2 linked regions of the Homo sapiens genome follow. The protein of the gene in region 1 binds, or shares a complex with, the protein of each later gene. Each region holds a gene or a part of one and is shown on either strand. Other genes may lie near its edges. The genes, in order: TIMP1 and MMP3. A codon is read from its position in the direction of its gene.

Region 1 (3,916 bases):
TGATCATCCTCAATCTCTGATCATCCTCAATACCTGATCATCCTCAATCTCTGATCATCCTCAATCTCTGATCATCCTCAATACCTGATCATCCTTGCTATCTGACTGGGTTCTTCATCTTCCACCATCCCCCAGGTGATGTCTGATTCCCCTTGGCCTGCCTTCAGCAAGAATCCTGTTACGTCGGTTTAGCCAGAATCCCCCTTACCCCTGATGTTTCTTCTTAGTAATTTCCACCCACAGACCCTCACACTGCTCCTTAGCTACACATTCCCACTGGCCCATGCTATATTCAGTGTTGAGCCCAATCTCTCCCACCGACTGCAAGATCCCATTGCAGTGGTTCCTATACCCATCACCATGGTCCTGAATATGGTCTTCCTTACTGTGTTATAACAAGTATCACTGAATATTTTTCTGTTTAACAGGAGATCAGGAGTACTAAGGGGCAGGGGTTAAAATTTTAAACAGGATGGCCAGGGAAGGCCATCCTGAGAAGGTGACGTTTGAGGCAGCCACCCATGTGGATACCTGGGGGGAAAGTGTACCAGGCAGAGGGAGCAGCCAGCATGCAGATCCTGTGGTGGGCTTGGGCACAGAGTACTCAAGGAAGTGTGAGGATGCCAGTGTGGCTAAAGCAGAGGAAGTGCAGGGGCGAGTGGAATCATTCTAGAGGTAAGTGCCATGGTGAGCCCCACTGGACTGAAAGGGAAACCAAGGCAGAGTGTGTGGGCTGAGTGGGGTGAGGACTCACCGAGGTCGGAATTGCAGAAGGCCGTCTGTGGGTGGGGTGGGACACAGGTGCAGGCCCTGCTGGGGGCTATCAGCCACAGCAACAACAGGATGCCAGAAGCCAGGGGCTCAAAGGGGGCCATGGTGGGTTCTGTGGGGAAGGGGGATGTCAGGCAGGCCCCGGCCCAGCTGATCTGCTGACCTGGGCAGGTCATCCACCCCATCTTGCCCCGGGGCAGCCTATGGGGGGGATTAGGGGGCTGGATTTGGGCTTGAGGGGTTGGTAAGCTTAGGGATTTTAAGGGGATTGGGGAGCGCAGAGGAATTTAGGGTTTAGAGAGTTGGGAGAGTTTAAATTATTGAGGGACTGAGTGAGTTGCGGGGTTATGGGGTTGTGGCACTTGGGGGAGAAGGGGGCTGAGGAAGTTTGAGGAATGAGGGGATTGGGGAATTCTGGAGGTTGAGGAGTTTGGGGGTGAGGAATTTGGGATTGGGGGCTGGAGGAGTTTGGAGACGGCAGAGTTTAGGGGTTGTGTATATTAAGAGATATAAGAGGCTGGGGGAATTTAGGGAGGTTGAGGAATTTGGAGGAGGTTGGGGGTTTAGGGAGCTGGGGGAGTTTGGAGGTTGAAGGGGTTGGGGGAATTTGGGGGCTTAAGGCAATGGGGATACTTGAGGAATTTGAGGGCAAAAGAAGTTTGGGAGCTGGGGAACTGGGGATTGGGGAGCTGGGGGAGTTTAGGGAGCTGCAGGGGTTAGCGGTGGGTATTTAGGGGGCGATGAGGGAAATTTCGGGATGAAGGAATTTGCGGGGGGATTTGGAAAGCATTTGTGATATTAGGGGGTCATGGGTTTGGGGGAATTGGGGGCGGATGTCAGGGGTTCTAGGGAGTTTGGAGCCTCGGGGTTGGGAAAGCAGTTCCAGCCTCCGACCCTCTTCCCCCTAGACTAGCCCAGGGTCCTGGTACCCGCAGGCCAAGCTGAGTAGACAGGCATCTGGCACGGGAGTGCACGGGCCTGGTGGCCAGCACCCAAGCTGCAGCCCAGCTCCGGTCCCTGCTGGGCCACCCCGGGCCCTGCTTACCTCTGGTGTCTCTCTGGGCGCTGGATCTGCGGCGATGGCGGCAGGGCCTGAGCGCTAGAGGATAAATGTCCACGCTAGGGGCGGGGGTGGCAGCGGGTGCGGAAACCACAGGCCTCCAGGCTTCCTGGATGCATTACTCATCCACCCACCATCAGTGCAGAAGCCAAGGGGCGGGCCGACGAAAGGAGATACACCCTCCTCCTCTCCCACCCGCCTCCTCTCCCTCTCCCTGGGCCTCGCCCGGGCCAGCCACCTCCCCCACCTCCACGTCAGTCACTATTCCTTCCAAGCCGCCTCAGCGGAGAGCTTAGAGGCCGCATTTCCCCCGGCCCAGTCCCCTAAAGTCTCCAGAATCTATCCAATCACCCACATCCCCCAAGCTCCCTATGACTCAAACCCAAATTAGTTCAGCCCTTCAACATTTATTGTGCATCTACTGTGTGCCAAGCACACAAAAATCCCTTGTTTTGTATGTCTGACATGCTGGTGAGGGGTGGCAGAGAGGAAACAAATTAAGTAGCAGCAGTGGAGGGAGATAAGGCAGGTGAAAGGGGAGGAATACAAAATGGGGAAACTGAGGCACGGAGTGGTTAAGTGACTTACCCAGGATCACAGAGTCAATACATGGCAGAACTGAGACTGGAACTCAGGTGGCCAGGAGCCAAAGCCAGGGTCTCAAATAACACAGGCAAATAGCCGGCATTTATACAGCACCTACTGTATACCAGGCACTCAGCATAGTTTATCTCACTCAAAGCTCACAACAAATCTCTGAGATGGGTACCGGTTCTTATTCCCGTTTTACGGATGAGGAAATATGGGGCGTAGAGGAACTGTAGAATTTTCCTAAGATCACAGGGCATGGCCGGGATTCAAACAGAGGCTACCTGGCACCAGGGTTGTAACTCAGGAGTGGCACCGTCCTAGCAAGCAGGGAATGGTGCGGGTGAATGAATGAGCATTGGGAAGGGGGTGGCCATGAATGATGGTGAAAGAAGCAAGTGAGTGGGTCAGTAGAAAACTAATCCCCACCCCATCCTGCCCTGCCCCCTCCCCATGGACCTGTACCCCTGGTGGGGGGTGGGGTGGGGCAATCCTTGCCCACCAGCTTTCTGACAATGCAGGAACCTTCCCTGGGGTTCTGATTAACATCCTTAATTCGAGGAGGATAGATCAATAATAATAATTGTAGTGATGATGGCAGCCACTTATTGAGCACTTTCTGTGTACTATGTGCTAAAGTGTTTGTATAAATTATCTCATTCACTCACCATACTCCCTTGCTAATTAAGTTTGATTAACTCAGGGATGATAGCCCAATAACAAGAACACAACAAAAACTACCAGCAGCCCTTATGGAGTGCTTACTGCGTATCCAGCACTATTCTGGGTGGGAGGAATGTGAGGGATGAGAAATTGCCTAATGGGTACAATGTACACTATTTGGTTGATGGGGACACTAAAAGCCCAGACTTCACCACTATGTAATATATCCATGTCACAAAACTGCAGCTGTACCCTCTAAATCTATTTTTTTTTTTTGACAAGAGTCTTGCTCTGTCACCTAGGCTGGAGTGCAGTGGCGCGATCTCAGCTCACTGCAACCTCCGCCTCCGGGGTTCAAGAGATTCTCCTGTCTCAGCCTCCTGAGTAGCTGGGATTACAGCCACACCACCACCACCCCCAGCTAATTTTTGTAGTTTTAGTAGAGACGGGGGTTTCACCATATTGGTCAGATCTCGAACTCCTGACTTCAGGTGATCCACCTGCCTCGACCTCCCAAAGTGTTGGGATTACAGGCGTGAGCCACCACACCCGGCCTTCTAAATCTTTTTTTTTTTTTTAGACAGAGTTTCGATCTTGTTTCCCAGGCTGGAGTGCAATGGCAAGATCTTGGCTCACTGCAACCTCCACCTCCTGGGTTCAAGCAATTCTCCTGCCTCAGCCTCCTCAGTAGCTGGGGTTACAGGCACACGCCACCACGCCTGGCTAATTTTTGTATTTTTAGTAGAGACGGGGTTTCACCATGTTGGCCAGGCTGGTCTCAAACTCCTGACCTCGGGTGATCCGCCCACCTCAGCCTCCCAAAGTGCTGCGATT
Region 2 (3,916 bases), on another chromosome or scaffold:
AGAGAGACAGATAAACCATTTCACTACAGTTCAGTGTGGAAAATAGAGTAGCAGAGGCAGGTACAAGGTACCATTGAACAATGATTAATGACTCTTCCTGGGACTTGGGAAACATCTTTCAGGGAAGTCGTCGAAGCTGTTTTAAAATATAGCAAACTTTTGTATTTAGTTCAGGAACAGCATGGCCCATTTTGCCAATCACATCTTAACAGTTGGAAAAGCAAACATATTATCTATCAGGCTTTCCTCTAAACTTTAAATATGTTTTATAAGTTATAACTCCAGAGAAAATTTACAAAGGATAAACCTTAATATAGAAGGAATTAGAGCTGCCACAGCTTCTACACTTTTAACCTCTCAATATTTTATCTGTTGGGCTCCACTGTTTCTTCCTGGAATTCACATCACTGCCACCACTCTGTTCTCCTTGTCCTCATATCAATGTGGCCAAATATTTTCCCTGTATTTCAATCAGGACAAGACATGGTTTTTCCCCCCATCAAAGGAATGGAGAACCATAGAATACTAGTTTTAAAATGTCTTTAGGCCAGGTGCCGTGACCCATGTCTGTAATCCTAGCACTTTGAGAGGTTGAGGCAGGAGAATCACTTGAGCCCAGAGCTCGAAACCAGCCTGGGCAACATAGTGAAACCTCTGTCTCTATTTTTTAAATAAAATTTGAAAAAGTCTTTAGACATAATCTAGTCTAAAAATGAAGGCTTAAATGTGATGTATAGCCCCCTGCCAAGTGGCTATCAACTGTGTGGGCATCTTCAGTCATAGGGATCTTATTGCCACAGAGAAATCCCTTTAAACTTATTGGGTAAAATCTCTCCAATGTTTATTAAGAAACACACAAAAAATAAAGCAAAGAAGAAAATGCAAAAGAGTTATAAATGAGAGGAAGCAAAATGGGCACTTATTAAAGGTCTAATAAATGCACATTTGTATCCATCATTCTACTGAGTTCTTACTCCCAAGATGTTCTTCCCTTTAGCAAACAAATAAGCAAGTCAGCAAAGAAAGAAAGAACAAACAAAATGTGGTGATCAGGGAAGCATTGAGGAGATGGATGGTGGCAGGTGGCAAGAGGACTATAAAAGTTTTACAAAATGTCTTCCTCTGAATATGTTTAGAGTCTTGCATTCAAGCATTTATTATACACCAATAATGTGAGCAACACTTTACTTGACAAAGAAACAGAAAAGAAAGGAAAGGAAGAAAACAGAAGAGCATGAAGAGAAAATTTAGGATGGATTCTGTTCTTCAACTTCAAAGCATCTGCTAATTTGAATTTAGGGAGGAGGGGAAAAGGTTGAAAGAGAATAAGACATGTGTAGAAGACAAGGACAGAGAGAATTTCAGTCCGGTAAGCAATGTAATTCATTTCAATTCTACAACTATTTATGGAGCAGCTACGTGGGCCCATCACCCATTAATAAATTGGTTACAGAATTAAAACCAACCCAAAGGGAATATACTTCCTTCTTTTTCACAGACCCTCTTTGTTCTATTCTGCCCATGAGGTTTTCCTCCTCAAGAACCAGCAAATCCAACGACAGTCAATAGCAGGCATTACAAATCAGATTCAGAAAAATAAATCACCCCTTCTAAATTTCTTCTAGATATTATCTTTTATGTTTTGAGTATAATTGTATATAGTATAGACTATAGCTATGTATGTACACTTTCCACTTACATCTTTTATTTGCTTTTATAATGTGTTTCTTAAAATAAAACTGCTTTTAGAAGTTCTGCACAATTCTGATTTTTACCAAGTCAACCTACTTCTTCTCTCAAAAGGACAAACATAAATTGTCTAGTGAATTCCAGTCAATTTTTCCAGAAGAAAAAAAATGCTCCAGTTTTCTCCTCTACCAAGACAGGAAGCACTTCCTGGAGATTAATCACTGTGTTGCCTTGCAAAATTGGGAAGGTTGAGAGAAATTAGTAAAGTAGGTTGTATCATCCTACTTTGAATTTGGAATGTTTGGAAATGGTCCTGCTGCCATTTGGATGAAAGCAAGGATGAGTCAAGCTGCGGGTGATCCAAACAAACACTGTCACTCTTTAAAAGCTGCGCTCCCGAGGTTGGACCTACAAGGAGGCAGGCAAGACAGCAAGGCATAGAGACAACATAGAGCTAAGTAAAGCCAGTGGAAATGAAGAGTCTTCCAATCCTACTGTTGCTGTGCGTGGCAGTTTGCTCAGCCTATCCATTGGATGGAGCTGCAAGGGGTGAGGACACCAGCATGAACCTTGTTCAGGTAATTAACACTAACTGACCTGGCCAGGTGGGGAGCTTCCAGAGTAAGCTGAAACCATTCTGTGTGTCTTAAAACCCACATAGAATGCTTGAGCTTACTGTGTAGGAACAGTTCAAGAATAGAGAGTTATAGAGTGTTGGAAGTGGAAAAGGTCTCATTATCACACCATTTGGGCTTCTCCTCTTATGTAGGAAGAAACAAAGGCCAGAAATATTAGGTGTTTTCTTAAGATCACACAACACCATAGCAGTAGCAGCACTGGGGCTTAAGGCACATGAGTAACAAGTGGAGAGTGGATGAACCATATCTTGCTTTGGAACAGCTTCAGTTTTTTTTTTAATGCAACGTAATTTTAGCTAAATATTTGTGTTGCTAGTATCATATTATAAAATTTGCCATTATTTCAGCAAGCTAGAGAAATACTCCAAATAGATTAAGAAGTGAGCAACTGCAAAAACTTACTATAAATAGATAGCTATAGTAAAAATTGTAAGAGTGACCTAAAAACTATACTTATTCTGTTAGAAATATCTAGAAAACTACTACGACCTCAAAAAAGATGTGAAACAGTTTGTTAGGAGAAAGGACAGTGGTCCTGTTGTTAAAAAAATCCGAGAAATGCAGAAGTTCCTTGGATTGGAGGTGACGGGGAAGCTGGACTCCGACACTCTGGAGGTGATGCGCAAGCCCAGGTGTGGAGTTCCTGATGTTGGTCACTTCAGAACCTTTCCTGGCATCCCGAAGTGGAGGAAAACCCACCTTACATACAGGTAATGGTTCAGAGGGGTTTTCACATAAGATTGGAATTTTATAAACTATATCATAGGAGAAAATAGCATCTGCTTCAATTTTTCTCCTACAGGATTGTGAATTATACACCAGATTTGCCAAAAGATGCTGTTGATTCTGCTGTTGAGAAAGCTCTGAAAGTCTGGGAAGAGGTGACTCCACTCACATTCTCCAGGCTGTATGAAGGAGAGGCTGATATAATGATCTCTTTTGCAGTTAGAGGTAAAAAAAAAAAAAAAAAAAAAAAAGCAAAACAAAACAAAACAAAAAACACATGAAATGTATCCATTCATCTATCTGGTGTTGTTGTACTGGAAAAGGCTCAAAAGGGATCCTTGTTACATATCTTTCCAATAAATTTTTTTCCTACTAGAACATGGAGACTTTTACCCTTTTGATGGACCTGGAAATGTTTTGGCCCATGCCTATGCCCCTGGGCCAGGGATTAATGGAGATGCCCACTTTGATGATGATGAACAATGGACAAAGGATACAACAGGTTAGTTACACATCTCTCAGAATGATTTTGGCATTAATTTTTTTATATGTAGAAATCTGTTAATAACCAAGAATGCTCAAGAAATGAGATGTTCTGGATTTTCCAGTGGATCAGAGATCAGCAGAATATATTTTTGTTTTAATTATTATTGAAAATATTTTCAGATGCTTTAACAGTTTTCCTATATTGGTAAGCACAATATAGGAAATATCATTAAGTATTTCTTTAATGACTGGATCTTTGTGATCTAGGGGTAACCATTATTAAGAAAAATTTCTCATATCAAAATACAAACATTCAAGGGATAGTATATTGCACTGAATCTACATTAAAATGTGCTCTGGATGTTACTTATGTAATT

Evidence for each region.
Region 2: the proteins of TIMP1 (region 1) and MMP3 are in contact, whole or in part, in a crystal structure (PDB 1UEA), measured with the Homo sapiens proteins. Residues at the interface, in NP_003245.1 of Homo sapiens: Cys24 (codon at 806), Thr25 (codon at 803), Cys26 (codon at 800), Val27 (codon at 797), Pro28 (codon at 794), Pro29 (codon at 791), Val52, Thr56, Leu57, Tyr58, Pro87, Ala88, Met89, Glu90, Ser91, Val92, Cys93, Thr121, Cys122, Leu156, Ser157, Pro159, Gln173, Leu174, Gly177, Glu179; in NP_002413.1 of Homo sapiens: Phe100 (codon at 2,985), Thr102 (codon at 2,991), Phe103 (codon at 2,994), Phe171 (codon at 3,441), Tyr172 (codon at 3,444), Gly178 (codon at 3,462), Asn179 (codon at 3,465), Val180 (codon at 3,468), Leu181 (codon at 3,471), Ala182 (codon at 3,474), His183 (codon at 3,477), Ala184 (codon at 3,480), Tyr185 (codon at 3,483), Ala186 (codon at 3,486), Thr207 (codon at 3,549), Thr208 (codon at 3,552), Gly209, Thr210, Val215, His218, Glu219, His222, Phe227, His228, Tyr237, Pro238, Leu239, Tyr240, His241, Ser242.

Annotation. Positions count from the first base shown.
Region 1 is NC_000023.11:47,580,375-47,584,290, reverse strand, and holds the start of TIMP1 (metalloproteinase inhibitor 1 precursor), read right to left. Parts: upstream 1,856-3,916; 5' UTR 1,817-1,855; intron 884-1,816; 5' UTR 876-883; coding exon 755-875; intron 1-754. UniProt on the Homo sapiens protein: Metalloproteinase inhibitor that functions by forming one to one complexes with target metalloproteinases, such as collagenases, and irreversibly inactivates them by binding to their catalytic zinc cofactor.
Region 2 is NC_000011.10:102,841,793-102,845,708, reverse strand, and holds the start of MMP3 (stromelysin-1 preproprotein), read left to right. Parts: upstream 1-2,099; 5' UTR 2,100-2,162; coding exon 2,163-2,267; intron 2,268-2,792; coding exon 2,793-3,037; intron 3,038-3,129; coding exon 3,130-3,278; intron 3,279-3,429; coding exon 3,430-3,555; intron 3,556-3,916. UniProt on the Homo sapiens protein: Metalloproteinase with a rather broad substrate specificity that can degrade fibronectin, laminin, gelatins of type I, III, IV, and V; collagens III, IV, X, and IX, and cartilage proteoglycans.